4 linked regions of the Homo sapiens genome follow. The protein of the gene in region 1 interacts with the protein of each later gene in a biochemical or structural test. Each region holds a gene or a part of one and is shown in the gene's direction. Other genes may lie near its edges.

Region 1 (4,853 bases):
AGATACCTATTTAACATTGTATAACTCTGCATTTCCCAAACCCTGTTTTCCTTGTCCTGGCAAAATACTGTTCTAGAAAAGTAGTCCTAGTGACTCAGTAGATATAGGAAGTTGGCTGTTGGTATCAGATACTGTTAAGGAAGAATCTCTATATTCTTCATTTCTTAAACTTTGTTTTTTAAATCAGTAATAGATGTCGAATTTTATCAACTGATGTTTTTCATGTAATGAAATTCTATTTTTTATTTTGAATTATTCATGTGGTAATTTAGGTGAATAAATTTCCTGTAATTAACCAATTGTTGCATCTTTTAGAATAATTCTAATCATAGAGCAAGAGTTAATTTGGATTTGCTAGCATTTACTTAGAATTTTTATAATCTATGGGCTTGATCTGAAGTTTTCCTTTCTGTGCTATCTTTGTGCTGTTTTGTTACCAAGATAATGTTATTTTTGTCAAACTAATGGAGACAATGATTATCTGTTTCCATTATCGGCTATCTTTCCTCAAAGAATATCCCTTGATAAAGCACTTCTGGTGCATCATCTATCCTTAGTATCTTTGTTTAGGGAATAGTTTCAGAGTATTTTTGATAATGTCTTTCTTGGCTATTTTCTCTTCTGGTTTTTATCAATATAGGTAATGAATATTTGCTAGAAACTTATCCATTAAGTCAAGATATTAAACTTACTTCAACATTCGATGCATCTTTTTATGTTTTATACTCCTAAATATCTGTGTTTTATCTCATTAATATTATGTATTTATATCTTTGTTTTTTGTCTTGATTAACATTATTAGCTCTTTGTTTTGCTTATTTTTTGTTTTTAAATTTTTCTCTTTCACTCACTCTTCTTTTTCAATTAAAAAATTAAAGTTATGAATGCTTATAAAATGAATCCAAAAGCCTAATAATAATTTTTTTGAAACCAGACCCTTGTCTCATCCTTTCCTTTAGTCAATTCCCACTCCCTAGAGGAATCCACTTAATTTTTAAATTGTTGAAGTCCTCTGATGTTTTAACTTCATATTATTAATACAAAGCAAATCGTTTATACTATTACTTGATTTTTCAGTTTGAGAAAGTATGAATTGAAATGGTGAGGGATGAGGTTTAGTGAACACAAAACAAGCATTGCATAAAGTCAAGGTGATATACTCAGTCAGAATAGATTTCTGCCACAATACATGAAATTTGACTCCTAACATTATTCCTTTAGGAATAACATTATTCCACTCCTATTATGTGGATATAGAAGTCCTCTATTAATGTACAATTGGGTCATCTGATAATATTAGGGAGATTGAGAAATACTTTGTTTGTTGAATTCCTTGATTTAGGTTAGATTATCAGGCAGGCACTGAGCCATGTGGAATCCTAAAGAAGTAGGGGCACAGGATATGTAAATATTGATGTGAACAGGGAGAAAATAGGTTCAGTGTGTGATCCTGTCCTGTGAGGGGCGGTGGGAAATTGAGCATGGGAAGCAAGGCTGTCTTTTTTACTTTAAGGCTGATCAAAGACTGTTCTTTCACCTGAATTAAATCTAAGGCACAAATCATGTTGCTCCCTTATTTATCAAACAAAAACAATACACAAATTGGACCTCTTCTTTTTTGTCATATTTTAAGGCTCACATTGGGTGCTACAGGAATCATAAGGTGGTACAGGGACCTATAATGAATGTAAAACTTCTATTTGTTTTGCTAAGAAGATAGATTTAAAGGCTTTAAAGACTTTATCCTAATGAATCAATATTCAAATAGTTGAATTCCTCTTCTTCCTTTCCTGCTTGCTCCTAGTTTAAACTGGCAAGACCACAAAGTTAGCAAAATTCTGCCTCATTATTTATTCCAAAGGCAACACTTAAATTTATTCTTTGCCATAATGAGGCTTAAACTGGGCAGATTGAGAAAGAATGCTGGCTACAGAGTTCCAATAGCAGGATTAGTTAATCAGATATCCTGGTTGATTTTAATTGAAAACATTTGCCAACTTACTGTGACAACAAAAGGTAGATTCACTTTAAATTGCGTCTATAGAATTGTGGTATACTGTTGAATAAAAAAATTTAATAAATTGCGTAGTATTTATTTATTTTTACTTTAAAAACTAACTTTGACAGATCAGAGTCAAGGAATGTGTTTATAATGGACACTTCATCCAAAGAAAATATCCAGTTGTTCTGCAAAACTTCAGTGCAACCTGTTGGAAGGCCTTCTTTTAAAACAGAATATCCCTCCTCAGAAGAAAAGCAACCATGCTGTGGTGAACTAAAGGTAGAGCAACCAAGAAGTAAATAGTGTTGATGCTCTTAGTTTTCTGTCCAGATATCATCTATATAATGAAGTTAGAATGAGAATTGTTTTCTCCTTTAAAAAAAAAAAAAGATCTTAGATGCAATTTACTAAAACCACACCTTGCCAGGCGGTGCAAGCAATCTCTACCTGACCATGTGGGTTAAATTACTTTCCTGGGCTCATTTAAATGCCCCCCCAAACAGAAAAGAGAGAAATAGTAGAAACTAGTATTTATTGAACTTCTGCCATGTGCCAGATATTAAGCCAAGCACAGATATAACATTTAATTTGTGAAACATCACATTACTCCCATTTTGCAAATAAAAATGGGAATAATGTTACAGAGTAGGGAGAAGAGTTGCTTTTTTTTTTTTTTAGGATTGTTGTATCAAACAATAGTTTTTAGTTTTTTGAGGAACCTCCATACTATTATATTTTCCAAAGAGACTACATCAACTTATGTAACCACTAACCATGTACAAAGATTCCCTTTTCTTTACATTCTAACCAGTTTTTATTTTTTGTTATAGCCAACAGATGTGAAGTGATATGTCATAAAGATTTTTATTTGCATCTCCATAATGACTAGTGATGTTGAGCACCTTTTTCATATACCTGTTGGCCATGCCTTCTTTTAAGTAATGTCTATTTAGATTATTTGCCCATTGTTAAAATCATGCTATTTTTCTTTGCTATTTAGTGATAGAAGTTTCTTTTTTTTAATTATTTTTTAATTATTATACTTTAAGTTCTAGGGTACATGTGCACACGTGCAGGTTTGTTACATACGTATACATGTGCCATGTTGGTGTGCTGCACCCGTTAACTCGTCATTTACATTAGGTATATCTCCTAATGCTGTCCCTCCCCGCTCCCCCAATCCCCCGAGAATAGTTGTTTCTTAAGGGATGCTTTGTGTGCTCCTATTCTTTCTTTATACAAATATTCACTCAACAAATCTCTGCTTTTTTCATATAAATGCTAACCTTCCCTATGAATGTTCTATCACAGACCCATGTCTATCAAAATATATAAGCTAGATATCAAAGACATGTTTTCCATTGAGAAAAATATTTGACTATGAATTTAATAAGTATAAACATAAACACAAGGAATAATAGTTGCACTTTTTCAGTCTGTACATTATGTTCCCGGCTGGTGCATGCACCACCCTGTGAAATACATAATCCCAAGTGCTGGACTTGTTATAGGATGTCAAGTGTTTGGCTTATGGTTTCATTTACTTTCTTACCAATGAATGTCTCACCATACACTGACTCTTCAATGTAAGACTCCTTTGAGTGCCCCTCTGGAGCAGAGTGGAAGAAGACAAAAGATAATTCAATACACATTTCGCATAAAAACCAAATATATATTTTAAATTCCAAGAGAATTTGAACTGTTGAAAACTTACAGTGCTTAAGGCTGATGGAAACCTCGAACAGTGTTTGAATTAAAGTTTCAGTGATAATAAAGTTGATATTATACATTGTTCTTTGTTGTTTGTTTTGTATTTGTTTGTCTATTTACTTAGTTTCCAATTGTGTGTCAAGCTGGAGTCAGACTAAGTGTGACCTGTCATATTTTCCAGGTGTTCTTGTGTGCCTTGTCTTTTGTTTACTTTGCCAAAGCATTGGCAGAAGGCTATCTGAAGAGCACCATCACTCAGATAGAGAGAAGGTTTGATATCCCTTCTTCACTGGTGGGAGTTATTGATGGTAGTTTTGAAATTGGTAGGTATTACAGATGCCTGACTTTAATTTTAAGCCCAAGATCTTCTAGGTGTGGCTAAAGAACACCTTCTGCATTCTATTGTCTGCTGGGATCAGACTCTATTCATAAAATCTTTTTTTTTTTTTTTGGACAGAATTTACCATGATCTTATTCTACAGGAGAGGCAATTTTCTCAGAGCAATCAACAGTAAATTTTTCTCCCCAGGTGTTTGGTATTGTATGGTTCACACAATTCAGAGTTCTACATCAGAGTAAGTGACTTTCTTGGAGGAAAGGGTGAGATGCTAATTGGTATTTTGAGTTATAAATATGTAGAAGTATCTTTACAGAAGAACAATACACCCTGGGAGCACTATGATTCAATTTTAGAGGTGTGGAATAATCCAAATGCGCTCTACAAGAATTTACTGCAATGATGAATAGAAGTTACATCATAAAAGGGATTTTTCCACCCAGTGGTCTAGAAAGAAGAATAAAGGGATTCTATTACCAAGAACACAAGATCAGAGCAGGCAATAAAAATTCAAATCTCAGGTGCCTTTGGTTAGCAATTGACTACAGACTCCTTAGAAATTAAAAAGATCGAGTAATTTGAGTCACTGTTTTAGAAGTAATTTAAAGAGGATAATCCTAGTTAGTCTGCTTCCTGAATTGATAAACTAAAAGGCTTTAATTTTTTGCTGAAGTAAACGAAATAGTACCCTCTCTGGTCCTTAAGGCTTGTTTAGATTCAGATATACACCATAGTAAAACCTCTAACTGCTCCAATTTTAGCTTTACCTGGTGAACTTTCAGAAAAGTGAATAAATATTTTTCA
Region 2 (4,853 bases), on another chromosome or scaffold:
GATATTACAGCTCATGTTTCTGAAAAGACTCTCTACATGTTAATTTTTCCACTATTACTAGTTTCACTTTAAAGAATAGCAGTTTGAAAGGTAAACTGTTCATAACATTGAACAGGGTAGAGTTTAGGTTTGTTACCATGAGTATTTTTGCTCCTTAATGCTATTTCAATCATTTTAATAGCAGTAATTTTGTTTTTTTTTTCAGTGGCATACTTCCCAGTTAAAAATATTTTTTATAATCACGATGAATTATGTAATATGTGCTTTTTTTTTTCTACTACAATTTTTCATAAAAAGGAGTTTTATGGAAATTATAGACAGTAAAGTGATCATTACTATATTAACTGTGATTATAAATGGGTTGTTTTCAGGACAGATTTTAGTTCATGGTGAAGTGAATGTTTCTTTTTTGAAAACTTATGTAAAAGTCTGTTAAAGCTGGCTTTAGCTTTCATTTTAACCTGACAGCCATCCTAAATAATTTCTATGCAAATAATAGATTTTCATGTACAATTTCCAAATGGCATGCTTGTGTGGATATAATTGCATAATCAACTGCTAATGCAAATTATCATTCAGTGAAATTGTTTAAAGTGAGCAGTAACCACACAGTGGTTGATTTAATTTTTTTCAACTCATAGATTCTATAAGGGGACCATCTCTTTTTTCATTGGTTTTCCTTTCTATTGCTATGCCTTTTTGATTCCTTCTCCCCCAACTCCTATTCAAAGCTCTACAAAAAAAGCATCCTATATGAAATAATGTTGAGGATCACAATAAATTAGAAATAGTAAGGATAATTTGAAATAATAAAGAAGTTTCACCCTTTCCCATCTTCCTGCTCCCCAGCCCCAACCCTCACCCCCATGCCAGGATGACATACCTTTCTTTTATATATTGGGCTGCTATTAAGATTATCTTTTCTCTCTTTCATAGTGATCTTGAGCCTGAATGGCTGGACAGTGTGCAGAAAAATGGAGAGCTGTTTTATTTGGAATTGAGTGAGGATGAAGAAGAAAGCCTCCTTCCTGAGACACCAACTGTGAACCATGTCAGGTTCAGTGAAAATGAGATTATCATTGAAGATGACTACAAAGAAAGAAAAAAGTATGAACCCAAACTCAAGCAGTTTACCAAAATTTTAAGAAGGAAAAGACTTTTACCCAAGCGCTGCAATAAAAAAAATAGCAATGACAATGGACCAGTATCCATTCTAAAGCATCAGTCCAATCAGAAGACAGGAGTCATTGTCCAACAGCGATACAAAGATGTGAATGTTTATGTAAACCCCAAAAAGCTAACTGTTATCAAAGCCAAAGAGCAGCTCAAGCTTCTGGAAGTGCTGGTTGGAATTATTCATCAGACCAAGTGGAGCTGGAGAAGAACCGGAAAGCAGGGTGATGGAGAGAGGCTTGTGGTTCATGGCCTGCTGCCAGGGGGATCTGCTATGAAGAGCGGTCAGGTACTCATTGGTAAGTGTTGCTGGTACACATCCATCCCTGTTTACAGAGATCTTGATTAATGATGACACCTTGCGGGAAATGTGATAAAAACAATTATATACAGTCTCCACAGATAAAGAACTGATTAATGACATTTGGTACAGTAGAGAAATGGTTACACATGGTGCACTACAAGGCACAGTGTTCTTAAAATGACCAGTTCAGTGTGTTGAGTATGTGTGTGCCTTGTTCAGGCCAAGAAATAGCTTACCTAATTTTCAAGTTTTGAATTATATAATTTTATTTCATCTTGGTTATATTTGCTGACAAGAAAAAAAACGTTGATCATAGAGTGATAATTTAGGTTTGAATGGCTATATCCAGTAACAGGATACAAAAATATATAATTTATGAATAAAAATACTTTTAAATTGTATGTTTGCACTTGAGTACACTAAGTTCTTGGAGTGGTTTTCAACTGTTTCATTTGGCATATTTTGCAACAGTGGTGTTATATATAAATTTCCTTTTAAGGGCGTGTGTCATAAAATATATCTGTCATAAAATAGCCCACCAATTTTCAAGAAAAATAAACCCACAAATTATTCTGAATATATATTAAGATGAACATTTTGTGTTGCTGATAAATTTTAAGCTGTTAGATACAATGTTTGAGTTAGTAGCAATCTAATTACTTAAAGATAAATGAGTAAAATTTGAGGATATATTATTACTAAAATTTAAAAGTAATAACAGTTCTAAAAGCTGACAGTCTTTTAAGTTTATCTAGCATAAGAGGTTTAAATGAAGAACATTTACAGATAAATTTACAAATATTTCCAACTTTAAATCTGAATTTCATTTGTTTGTTCACTGATTTGACAGTTTGTTTTTTTAGCATCTGCTAAGTGCCAGGAATACAAAGATTACTTTACTGATCCAATTATTTCTTGAAAGGAGCTATGTTTTAGTGGAAGAGACGGGTTACAGATAGGCAGGCAGCTCCTCACTGTCTGATAAGTGTCATCATAGGGGTTTACAAGGAGGATCATATGGAATCTTGTAAGAAGGGCATCTGTGGCAAAGTATGTGTTCCAGAATGATCTCAACAGGATCTGCACACTTTCTTAAAATGTAGTGTTGATACTCCTCCCATGGAGAGTTGTGCTCTGTGTCATTGAATCTGGGTGGGCCGGTGACTACAGCTTAATTGGTGCCATGTGACTTAAGAGGTTGGATCATAAAAGGTGATGCAGCTTCTGCCTGGTTATTTTGGGGATACTTGCCCTTAGAACCCAGTCACCATTGTGTGAAGAGGTCAAGACACCAGTGATCCAGCTGATAGCCCCAACTGAAGCCCTCGCCACCAGATGTGAGTGAGAAGCCTTTAAGATGACTCCAGCCCCAACCACCATCTGCCTGTAACTGCATGAGGAATCCCAAGTGAGAACCACAGCTGACCCCAGTTAACCCCAGAACCAGGAGAGATGATAAATTATTGTTGTTGTTATTTTTTTATTTTTTATTTTATTTATTTATTTATTTATTTTTGAGATGGAGTTTTGCTGTTGTCACTCAGGCTAGAGTGCAATGGCACCATCTTGGCTCACTTCAACCTCTACCTCCCGGGTTCAAGCGATTCTTCTGCCTCAGCCTCCTGAGTAGTTGGGATTACTGGCACCCACCACCATGCCTGACTAATTTTTTTGTATTTTTTAGTAGAGATGGAGTTTCACCATGTTGGTCAGGCTGGTCTTGAACTCCTGACCTCAGGTGATCCACCCGCCTCAGCCTCACAAAGTGCTGGGATTACAGGCGTGAGCCACCGTGCCTGGCCAACTGTTGTTGTTTTAAGCCTCAGAATTATTTGGATAGGCCTGGCGTGGTGGCTAACACTTGTAATCCCAGCACTTTGGGAGGCCAAGGTGGGCAGATCACTTGAGGCCAGGAGTTTGAGACCAGCCTGGCCAACATGGCAAGACCCCGTGTCTACTAAAAAATACAAAACTTAGCTGGGCCTTGTGGTGCATGCCTGTAATCTCAGCTGCTGGGGAGGCTGGGGCACGAGAATCACTTGAACCTGGGAGGCAGAGGTTGCAATGAGCCAAGATTGTACCACCGCACTCCAGCCTGGGGGAACACAGTGAGACTCTGTCTCAAAAAAAAAAAAAAAAATTGTTTGGATGACTTATTATGCAACAATAGATGACTGGAACAGGGGCTAATACATACTTACATTCTCTTGGGTCCTCTACTTTCCTTCTTGTGAAATGATAGGATAGAACTAAATATCTCTATGGTTTGTTCTTTTAGTTCTGTAAAAGGAGCCAGAATTCATTTAACGTGCCCCCCTTTCAGTGGTGTTTCCTGTGAGTTGGTAGTTAGATCTTGAGGCCTATCAAACATATTTTATAGGTGGTCTGTGTGCTTCCATCAGGAACAACATATTATCTGCTGTTTTTCTTTTTGTGATATTAACAGTTATTGATGATCATTGCCTAAATCCATTAATTCATTAAGGGACTGCAAAATGGTGATATTCCAATTCTGTCAGTCTTTCTCAATATTTCAGTTAGACTACTTTCATAAAAAGAAGCTCCCCCTCACCTCTGGTAACCTTGACATATGGTTTAGACAGGAAAGGCAGGATAAATGTCTGATTTTTCTTCATTTAACAGTTTTCACAAAAGCAAGTTGGTACCATTATTCAAGGACTTCAGAATGGTAGGTTGGGAGGGGCCTTAATTCTCTCTAGTTTGGTGCCCACATATTATAGACGAGGGGTTGAGATTGAAACTCAAAAAAAAATAACAAAATTTATTGTTAGTAAATGCATTGGCAGAAAACATTGAGTTTTGAATGTATAAAATGGCAGTATAGTAACTGCTTTTCAAAAACCAGATTCCCTTTCCCTGAAGTCAAATTTGGCTTAATTAAAAGGATCAATTTCAATTCACAATTTGATCTCATTTTTCTGTCCCATACATATGTGCCACTCCTTCTATCCATAAATCCCCACCTCTAACAAGCAAGCCTGATTTATTTTTTTCCTAACTGACCTCCAGATACACCTTGTGTGTCCATCTTTGCTTTTTAGCATTCGTGATTCCTTTTTTGGTGCATCACAAAGATTGCTTTGTATTACTAGGCTAGTGCATTCATCTTCTATTGCTGCCGTGACAAATTACCACAAACTTAGTGGTTTAAAACAATACAGATTTATCATCTTGCAATAATGTAAGCCAGAAATCTAAAATGGGTCTTCTTGTATGAAAATCAAGGTGTCCACAGGGCTACATTCCTTTTGGAGGCTCCAGGGAAGAATCCCATTCCTTGGCCAGCTTTCAGAGGCTACCTGCATTCTTTGGCTTGTGGTCCTGTCCTCCATCATCAAAGCCAGCAGCATAGCAT
Region 3 (4,853 bases), on another chromosome or scaffold:
AGGTTAGGATACCAGCATGGTTGGGTTCTGGTGAGGAAACTCTTCTGGGTTGCAGACACCTCACTTGTTATTGTTTCCTCCTTATTGGAGGCAAGAGAGCTGAGAGCTCTCTCTGAGGCCTTTTTCATAAGGGCACTAATCCCATTCATGAGGGCTCCTCACTTCTGACCTAATTACCCCCCAAAAGTCCCTCCTCCAAATACCATCACATTGTGGTTAGGATTTCAACATTTGAGTTTTGGGGGGAGATAAAAAGTCCATTGCATGCCTCTTACGTGAATTTTAAAGATGATAAATAGTAAGGATTGCTATATTTGGATTGAAAGCAGTTTCAACCTGAATGTAAAAGATGCCTAAATATAGTAAAACTCTATTCCCAAATAGAGACTTCTGGGTGATGAAAAATAAAAAATAATTTTTTAAAACAAAAAAATGTATGATTCACACTGGGAATTATGTAAGATGTTTTAAAAGAGAGTAACAGATACAAGGATATGAAATGTGGTTAGTAAGAAACAAAATCATTCAGCAGGATGAGAAAATAGACCTAACTCAACTGACCAACTAAGAGTTATCTTTAGTTAGATTTACAGTCTTTCTGCCCAATTAAACATTTAAAATGTTACCAGGCTGAAACACAAATGTCAGGCACAAAACTCAAGATACTGCGGGATGTTGGTTTTTAAATAGTGCCATGATTTCTTCCAGATTACACCAGGAAGCAAGGCGGCAGCTGCCAACCTGTGTCCTGGAGATGTCATCCTGGCTATTGACGGCTTTGGGACAGAGTCCATGACTCATGCTGATGCGCAGGACAGGATTAAAGCAGCAGCTCACCAGCTGTGTCTCAAAATTGACAGGTGCTTCTTAACTAATGGTGCTTAAATCTGATCTGTTTTGCAGGAGAACCTGAACCAGAACTATAAATAACTTCATCCTCCCAGCAAGGAGGGCCACAGACCTAGTATTTTGGCTGACTTTTTATATATTAGCTACTTAATTCTTTACTAAAGTCAGTCAATCTAGCAGTTGTTGACAAATCATTTCTAAAAAGGATTCTCTGGAATGTTAGAATAATAAAAGAGGCTAAAAGAATTTGTTCCAGTAATAACCCGGTTAATTAACTATGAAAATAGAACTATTAGCCACATAAACACTGAACAACACAACTAGTTATATCACTGTTCTCAGTGTGGTAGAGAATGGAATGGAATGGAATGGAATGGAGAGATTCCCCTGAAATAATCTCTTGACTTGCCTGACTGTAATTATATTAAAACTGGTTGCTAATATCCTGTCTGCCATTGGCTGTTTTGTACAGAATTCAGCCCAGAAGAATGTTACAGGTGTGAGAGTGCATATGCACGTGGGCATGTGAAATACTGAGATGTTTCTGACCCCACCCCCCAAAAACACTAAGAAATTGAGCCTGATCTCTTGCCATCAGATCCCTGATCCAAAACTGAACCATGATAATAATAATTTGTTATAGTGGTTGTTAGTGTGTGTTTATCCTGTTATGATTGTACTCACAGTTTTCCGTGCTGTGGTACAGAAGGATCAATCAATCCACCAATCTGCCGTTTCCTTGGGGTGAAATAGATTCTTTCACTCTCTATGCATAACCTGTGTTCATGCCGAGCACACAGTCCCTTAGGAGCCACTAGGTCCCAGGCAGATGCATGAGAAGGGTTGGACAAAGCACATTTCCTTGATGCCAGTAACACATCCACCTGGCAGATCACTCACTGTCTTCTGCAGTGGCCTCAGTAGGACTGGAGGGAAGTAGGGAGGTCTAGGGAGCTTGCCTGGTGGTCATCTGCAGAGTGTGCCTGCAGAGTCTCCCTCTCCTGTTTCCCACATGCCTTGCAGGCCTCCTTCCTCCAGAAACTGTGCAGTGTACTCCAGGCAATTTTTATCTAGTCTGCCATACCCAAAAGGACATTAAAAATGTACGACTTCGGCCGGGTGTGGTGGCTCCCGCCTGTAATCCTAGCGCTTTGGGAGGCCGAACTGGGCGGATCACTTGAGGTCCAGAGTTCATGACCAGCCTGGCCAACTGGTGAAACCCCGTCTCTACTAAAAATACAAAAATTAGCCAGGCATGGTGGTGGGCACCTGTAATCCCAGCTACTCGGGAAGCTGAGGGAGGAGAATCGCTTGGACCCAGAAGGAGGAGGTTGCAGTGAGTCAAGATTTTGCCACTGCACTCCAGCCTGGTTGACAGAGGGAGACAACATTAAAAGAAAAAAAAAGGGGGGGGGAAGACTAATTATGTGGGAAAATACAGAATAATCAGCAAAAAAAAAAATTGTTTTTGCATAAGTTAGTGAGGTTTGCTAGTATTTTCACAAACATAATGGGAAACTAAAGTATGCTAAAACTGAAAGTACCATTAGAATTTGAAGTTTACAAATTTTATTTTATTTCCAGGGGAGAAACTCACTTATGGTCTCCACAAGTATCTGAAGATGGGAAAGCCCATCCTTTCAAAATCAACTTAGAATCAGAACCACAGGTATGCGTTTTAGAGCAAATGATACACATTGTATTTCCTTTTAAATCATGGGGATGCCTTCCAAGGGGAGGAAGAGACAAATAGAAAAATTGGAACAAGCCACCTATGAAGCTGTTGTCTGTCATTCCTCTCCGAGATTAATTTATATTATCCGTGTTTTCTTACATCAAGAAAAAGAAGTGTTCCTATGTGAACATCTTGTTGAAAGACAAAATATGCTCCCATCAGAAAGAATTTGGCTAAATCTACAGAGTCCACTTATTATTTTTTCATTTCTTATAATGGACTTCTGTGAAATGACCGTGAGGTAATCTAAGGAGTTTAAGTTGTTAAAACAAAGCAAAGCAAAAATAAGGTCTACCATTTGAAACAGGTGTCTCCAATCTACGGTTACTGTGAATTTCAGTCCTTCGAGGTCTTCACCCAGATCTCATTCTACATTCTTCTTTAATTCTCATTTCTGGGATTCTGTAATTAAATTTACTCTAAGAAAAGAGTGTTGCCTAGTGTGATGATGGTGATATTCTGCCGTTACAGCTGAATTATAAAAGATAAAGGATTTTCTCTGGAGGCAACTGTAATAAACTAAACTAATCATCTGATGCTTATCTATGTCTACTTTCAAAAGGCCCAAAAAACCTGAAATTAAATCAAATCTTGATTGTGATGTACTCATAAATCTAATTAAGAAAAGCATTTTATGACCTCTACATAGAAGCTCTAAAGGTTTAGAGATACAGATACATGAATTTACCATCCCTTTTGAAACACATGTTCCTGCTAAACTGATTAGATATTCCCAGCATGTAGTTGTTCTATATAACTGATGAAAGGGAACTGAAAACGTATTTGTAATTTATGTTTAGCAGTATTTCCCCTTTCAAGAAAATCAACTCCTGAATTTGTCCTTCAAGTTTTCTACTTGTCTCCATAAGCCTCTGATTTCTTTTGTGAAAAGATGTTGAATAACATCAGTACATGTGTCTCCTAGGGCTTCTCAAAAATTAGAATAAAATAATACAAGCAGAGAAGTTGGCACATTGAGTTATTCATAGAAATACTCAAGTAAGTGGTAGCTGTCCTTATTATCAGTACGTTACCCCCACCCCAGGCTGGGATCCGAAAGTCTCCTGGCGTTTCTTGCTGGTGAGATAGTTAGCTGCCTACATGATAGGACATCCTAGAGGCTAGGAATGCCTTCTTCATTGCTATTACGAGGGTCGTGACAAATGGAACAAAGCTTTATTTTCAGTTAAAATATAATCTCTCCTGGAGAAGAAGGATCCTGAGTAATGTAATCTTTAGAGGAAATGAGTTTATTAGATTGTTGTCGTAGAGTTTTGACTAAAGGGAAGGTAGAGTCTGAATCTAAAATCCACTAAAAGCAAAAGTAGGAGAAAATAAGCCCCAAAAGGAGTGAGCAGGACAGAGAATATGTTCATGAAGGCAGGAACCTTGAGGCTGTTGTCTTCCCTCTGAGTCCCTCCAGCTCAATAAATAGCCCACAGCTCAATAAATAGCTGACAAATGGATGAAAGGAACTGGAGGGCCTAAAAATGAGCTGTGCATTTTCTAACATTGCCAGGACCTGTCCTGGGAGCCAGTTCTCAAAATGGTGTTCTGCCATCACTCTCAGCTGTTGCATGGAAAGTAATCTTGAAAGTTGAGTGGGGCCAGGCGCATTGACTCACACCTATAATCCTTTGGGAGGCAGAGGCAAAAAGATTGCTTGAGCCCTGGAGTTTGAGACCAGCCTGGGCAACATGGTGAGACCCCATTTCTATAAATTTTAAAAATTAACCAGGGCATGTTGGTACACACCTGTAAGTCCCAGCTACACAGAAGGCTGAGGTGGGAGGAGTGCTTGAGCCCAGGATGTCGAGGCTGCAGTGAGCTGTGATTGCACCACTGCACTCCAGCTTGGGTGACAGAGCAAGACCCTGTCTCAAAAAAAAAAAAAAAGAAAAGAAAAGAAAGTTGAGTGGGATACTTAGGCTAGGTAAGACTTTTGCTCTTTGGGGTAAGTGAGCAAAAGAAAATGGATGGCACAGATAATAAATATAATGAGAAGGGATCTGAATGCTGATGGCGACTCCCCCTGACATACTAGGTGGGCTGGTGAATAATGACACCTCTAGTCAACATTTTCTTTGCTAGAAGAAAATAGTGGAAGAAAAAAGGAAAGTTCTTGAGGTAGAGTTCTCACTTGTATCTAGCCTTTTGCAGAGATGCCCAGGCTGACCTGCTTCCTCCCACCGTCATCAATTTATCACCTGGAGGTGACACATGAGAAAAAGAGACTATATGGTGCTTTTAAGAATTAAAGTCAATAGAC
Region 4 (4,853 bases), on another chromosome or scaffold:
GTGAGCCACCGCGCCCAGCCAAGAAGGATCTCTTGAGCCCAGGAGTTTGAGGCTATAGTGAGCCATGATCACGAGACCCTATCTCAAAAATAAAAATAAAGGTCCAAGTGGAAGAAGATTAAAATAATAATAAAATAATAGTAAAGTGGGAATAACCGTTCATATTAACAGGCTAAGCCCTCTCATGCATTCAATTCTCCCAACAGCCCGAGTGGTCAGTGCTATTATTAGTTCCACTTTTCAAAGGAAGAAACTGAGGCCCAAAGAGGGAAGTACCCACCAGGAAGCCAGAGAAATTCTAACCAATCTGGCACGTGAAGGTGTTGTCTTCATCAGCCCCAGTTTGGGGTCTCTTTTGACTGGAAACCTTGTTAATGGTCCAGGAGCACCCCAGCCAATCAGGGGGTAGATCGCTGATGCGAGCCAATCAGATTTCCTGGAGGCCAAAGGCCAAAGAGTCCATTCACAAACGGGTGCTGACCGGCCAATCCAGACGCATAGCCCAGGGCGTCCTCTCCGGTGGTGACAATGTGAGGCGTGCTGTTGGCTGTGTGCAGGAAAGGTCTGAAAAAGGATCCGGCCTGGCCCGCGGGCGGCCAGTTTGCGACAGCCCTGGGTCCAGGGAGGAGGTGGAGACCTTCCCAATTTGGGTTAAACTCAGCCTCACGCATAACGTGTGCAGGCACCGGGTAACGTGAGCTGTTATTACTACTACTACTATTATCTTATTACATTTATCATCTCCTACTTGGACCTTTGCTTTACACATGACCGAATTTCAAAACACCAGGTCCCACAAACAGAGCATCCCCCGGCAGAGAAGGGCTAGAGCCTGTATCTGGACTTTTGTCTCTGCCGCTACTGGGGTGGCTCCTCTAGGTTCAGCCCTCCAAGGTGATCCTGCTTTCTCATGGACAGCTTCCACTTATTTTCCTCCTCCTCCTCCTCCTCCTCCTTCTCCTTCTCCTCCTCCTCCTCCTCCTCCTGGAAGCCCTGGGGCTGGTGCCATGTGGTCCATGCTGACTTCTCTCCCATTTAATTCCAGGGGCATCGAACTTCCAACCGGGCTTGGTGCCCAGCAGGCTGAGTCTCACCTCCCTTTGCACGTGCTGTTTGCTGGGCATGGACTGGTGTTTTCCATGTGCCTGCAGGCTTTGTTTGACACCCCCTACTCCAGGAAGCCCCTTAGCTCTCCTCTCTGTGTGCCTCCAACCCCTCTTCTCCCTTTGAGTCTCTCTTTTTTTAGACAGGATCTTGCCCTGTCGCCCAGGCTGGAGTGCGGTGGCCCAGGCTGGAGTGCAGTGGCGCCATCTTGGCTCACTGCAGGCTCCGTCACCTGGATACAAGCGATTCTCACAGCCTCAGCCTCCTGAGTAGCTGGATTACAGGCGAGCGCCACCACACCCGACTAATATAATTTTTATATTTTTTAGTAGAGATGGTGTTTCACCATGTTGGCCAGAATGGCCTCAAACTCTTTTTTTTTTTTTTTTTTTTTTTGAGACGGAGTCTTGCTCTGTCGCCCAGGCTGGAGTGCAGTGGCGTGATCTCCGCTCATTCCACCTCCCAGGTTCATGCCATTCTCCTGCCTCAGCCTCCCGAGTAGCTGGGACTACAGGCTCCTGCCACCACACCCGGCTAATTTTTTGTATTTTTAGCAGAGACGGGCTTTCACCGTGTTAGCCAGGATGGTCTCCATCTGCTGACTTCGTGATCCTCCCACCTCGGCCTCTCAAAGTGCTGAGATTACAGGTGTTAGCCACTGCGCCTGGCCTTTTTTTTTTGAAACGGAGTTTCACTCTTTCGCTCTTCTTGCCCAGGCTGGAGTGCAATGGCACGATCTCGGCTCACCGCAACCTCTGCCCCCGAGTTCAAGCGATTCTCCTGCCTCAGCCTCCCAGGTAGCTGGGATTACAGGCATGCGCCACCACATCCTGCTAATTTTGTATTTTTAGTAGAGACGGGGTTTCTCCATGTTGGTCAGGCTGGTCTCGAACTCCTGACCTCAGGTGATCTGCCTGCCTCAGCCTCCCAAAGTCCTGGGATTACAGGCATGAGCCACTGCGCCCGGCCACCTTTTTTTTTTTTTTTTTTGAGACGGAGTCTCATTCTGTCACCCAGGCTGGAGTACAATGGTGTGGTCTTGGCTCACTGCAACCTCCGCCTCCGGGGTTCAAGGGATTCTCCTGCCTCGGCCTACCGAGTAGCTGGGACTACAGGCGCCTGCCACCACATCCAGCTAATTTTTGTATTTTAAGTAGAGACGGGGTTTCACTATGTTGGCCAGGCTGATCTTGAACTCCTGACCTTGTGATCCGCCCACCTTGGCCTCCCAGCGTGCTGGGATTACAGGCGTGAGCCACCGCACCTGGCTCAAACTCTTGATCTTAAGTGATCCTCCCGCCTCAGCCTCCCAAAGTGCTGGGATTACAGGCATGAGCCACAGCACCCAGCTGCTTCGGGTCTCTCTTAATCCCTCCAGTATGGGGGTGCTCCTGCTGTGCTATGTCTTCTCCAAAATGGGATTTCCTCAAGGTGGGGCTAAAGCTTGTTGGGGAGGCAGCATCCCCCAGCCTGGGCAAGCGCAGACGGGTATACCATAAATATTACCTTTAAAGGGCAGTTTCAGGGGGTCGGGGCCTCCCCAACCTCCACTCCTCTGGGTGGGAACCACTCCCAGGGGAACAGCAGGCACAGAGGGAGCTGTGGGTGGAAAGCAGATGGTGCGGGGACCGAAGGGTCCGGGAGTGGTGCCAGGAGAGTTCTGTGTGGTCCAGCTTCCCCGGGAGCCTTTGCAGGGAGCTGCCGATTTTGCCTCACCTCTCTCTGCCACTTTAAAAAAACATCTTCAGGCCAGGCACAGTGGCTCATGCCTGTAATCCAGCGTTTTGGGAGGCCGAGATGGGAGGACTGCTTGAGGTCAGGAGGTCAAGACCAGCCAGACCAACATGGTGAAATCCTATCTCTACTAAAAATACAAAATCAGCCAAGCGTGGTGGTGGGCGCCTGTAATCCCAGCTTACTTGGGAGGCTGAGGCAGAAGAATCGCTTGAACCCAGGAGGTGGAGGTTGCAGTGAGACAAGATCGCACCATTGCCCTCCAGCCTGGGCGACAGAGCAAGTCTCCATCTGAAAACAAACAAACAAACAAAATATTCACATCTTTTTGTCTTTTGGAAGCAACTTTCAACTGGTGGTTATTATTCACGTCTTGATCATTGTCTTGACTCCCATCCATCCAAGTCTCCCCCAGCACCAGGCTCTGAGCTTGCTACTCATTGATTCCTCCAGGGACCCTATGTCACTGGGCCATTTTCCAAATGAGAAAACTGAGGCACAGAGGGGTTAAGTCACTTGTCGGGTCACACAGTGCAGGAGTGGGGGAGCCAGACTGGGAACCTAGGACTGTCAGAGTTTTGGAAGGAAATGCCTGGATGGGGTGCAAGTGGGACCCCCCACCAGGGTTCAAATCCCTCCCTGTTTCACGTGGGGTAGTGGAGGAAGTGGTATAAGATCCCACAACTGGCTGGGTGCAGTGGCTCATGCCTGTAATCCCAGCACTTTGGGAGGCCAAGGCAGGTGGATCACTTGAGACCAGGAGTTCAAGACCAGCCTGGGCAACATGGTGAAACCTCATCTCTATAAAAAATACAAAAATTAGCCGGGTGTGGTGGCACATGCCCACAATCCCAGCTACTCTGGAGGCGGAGGTTGCAGTGAGCCAAGATTGCACCACTGCATTCCAGTCTGGGCGACATAGCCAGACGCTGTCTCAAAAAAAAAAAAAAAAAAAAAAAAAAAAAAAAAAAAAAAATTCCCACAACTATTGGAAGGGGAAGAAGGAGACCCTAATGGCCACGGTGATGGTGGTGATGGTTCCATCACCATGACTGCTTGAACTAAACGCCGTGAGTTGTCTGTCCTCAGACATATTCAAGCAGTCAGAGAGACCTTCGAGGGGTAGATTATTCTCCTCCCATCGTGACAGCTTGGTTTTCTGAGCGCAGAGCAGCTGAAGTCAGGCCTGGGGTAACGCCACACCCCCGCGACCCTTCCCCGCCTCTCCCGGGAGACCTTGCCCTCCCAGCTGGGTCATCCGGCAGCCCAGCAGCTTCCGGCCCCCTCCAATTGGCTGTAGGGGCCGATGGCGTCACTGGTTGCTATGGCGAACACCCAGATCACGACGTGGGCAGCCTGGAGCCCACCAAAGTAAAAATAGTCGTGTGTCCCCAACGTGGCCGCCCTGATGTGTGTGGAGGGAGGGTGTCCTGAGACCCAGTTTCCTGCCTCTCACTCCACTAAGAGACGTGGGCAGCCGGCTTTCCTCTGCACCTAAGTTTCCCTGCCAGTAAAACAGCCCCTGCCCGCGGTTCGTAGGAGGTGGCTCAGTAAATGCAAGGACATTTACCAGGTATTATGACAGCTTCCATGGTCCCTTGCTGAGCTCAACAATAGTACAACAGCACACAACAGCAGCAATAGTAATGGCTGATCATGATTAACCCAGAACCCTCCTCACGTCATCTCCAGTTACAGATGGGGAAACTGAGGCACGGGGCATACAAATAATTTGCATGGCCAGGAAGAAACAGAGAATTGAACTGGACCCAGGTCTGGGTGTCCCCAGATTCTAAACTTGTGCCACATGGCATTTTGAGAATTTAATAAACCCTCGTGATTGACCGGGTGCGATGGCTTACACTGTAATCCCAGCCCTTTGGGAGGCTAAGGTGGATGGATCACTTGAGGTCAGGAGTTCGAGACCAGCCTGGGCAACATAGTGAAACCTCGTCTCTGCTAAATATACAAAAATTAGCCAGGCATGCTGGCACACACCTGTAACCCCAGTTACT

The links. Proteins that work in one complex are often made in the same cells at the same time.
Region 2: the proteins of SLCO1C1 (region 1) and INTU interact in a test that uses a peptide from one of them, tested with the Homo sapiens proteins (one large-scale study listed by IntAct).
Region 3: the proteins of SLCO1C1 (region 1) and PDLIM3 interact in a test that uses a peptide from one of them, tested with the Homo sapiens proteins (one large-scale study listed by IntAct).
Region 4: the proteins of SLCO1C1 (region 1) and MAST3 interact in a test that uses a peptide from one of them, tested with the Homo sapiens proteins (one large-scale study listed by IntAct).

What each region holds. Positions count from the first base shown.
Region 1 is NC_000012.12:20,697,425-20,702,277, forward strand, and holds part of SLCO1C1 (solute carrier organic anion transporter family member 1C1), read left to right. Parts: intron 1-2,127; 5' UTR 2,128-2,152; coding exon 2,153-2,281; intron 2,282-3,893; coding exon 3,894-4,035; intron 4,036-4,853. UniProt on the Homo sapiens protein: Mediates the Na(+)-independent high affinity transport of organic anions such as the thyroid hormones L-thyroxine (T4), L-thyroxine sulfate (T4S), and 3,3',5'-triiodo-L-thyronine (reverse T3, rT3) at the plasma membrane.
Region 2 is NC_000004.12:127,642,585-127,647,437, forward strand, and holds part of INTU (protein inturned), read left to right. Parts: intron 1-936; coding exon 937-1,472; intron 1,473-4,853. UniProt on the Homo sapiens protein: Plays a key role in ciliogenesis and embryonic development.
Region 3 is NC_000004.12:185,521,027-185,525,879, reverse strand, and holds part of PDLIM3 (PDZ and LIM domain protein 3), read left to right. Parts: intron 1-708; coding exon 709-860; intron 861-2,433; coding exon 2,434-2,518; intron 2,519-4,853. UniProt on the Homo sapiens protein: May play a role in the organization of actin filament arrays within muscle cells.
Region 4 is NC_000019.10:18,100,406-18,105,258, forward strand, and holds part of MAST3 (microtubule-associated serine/threonine-protein kinase 3), read left to right. Parts: intron 1-4,853.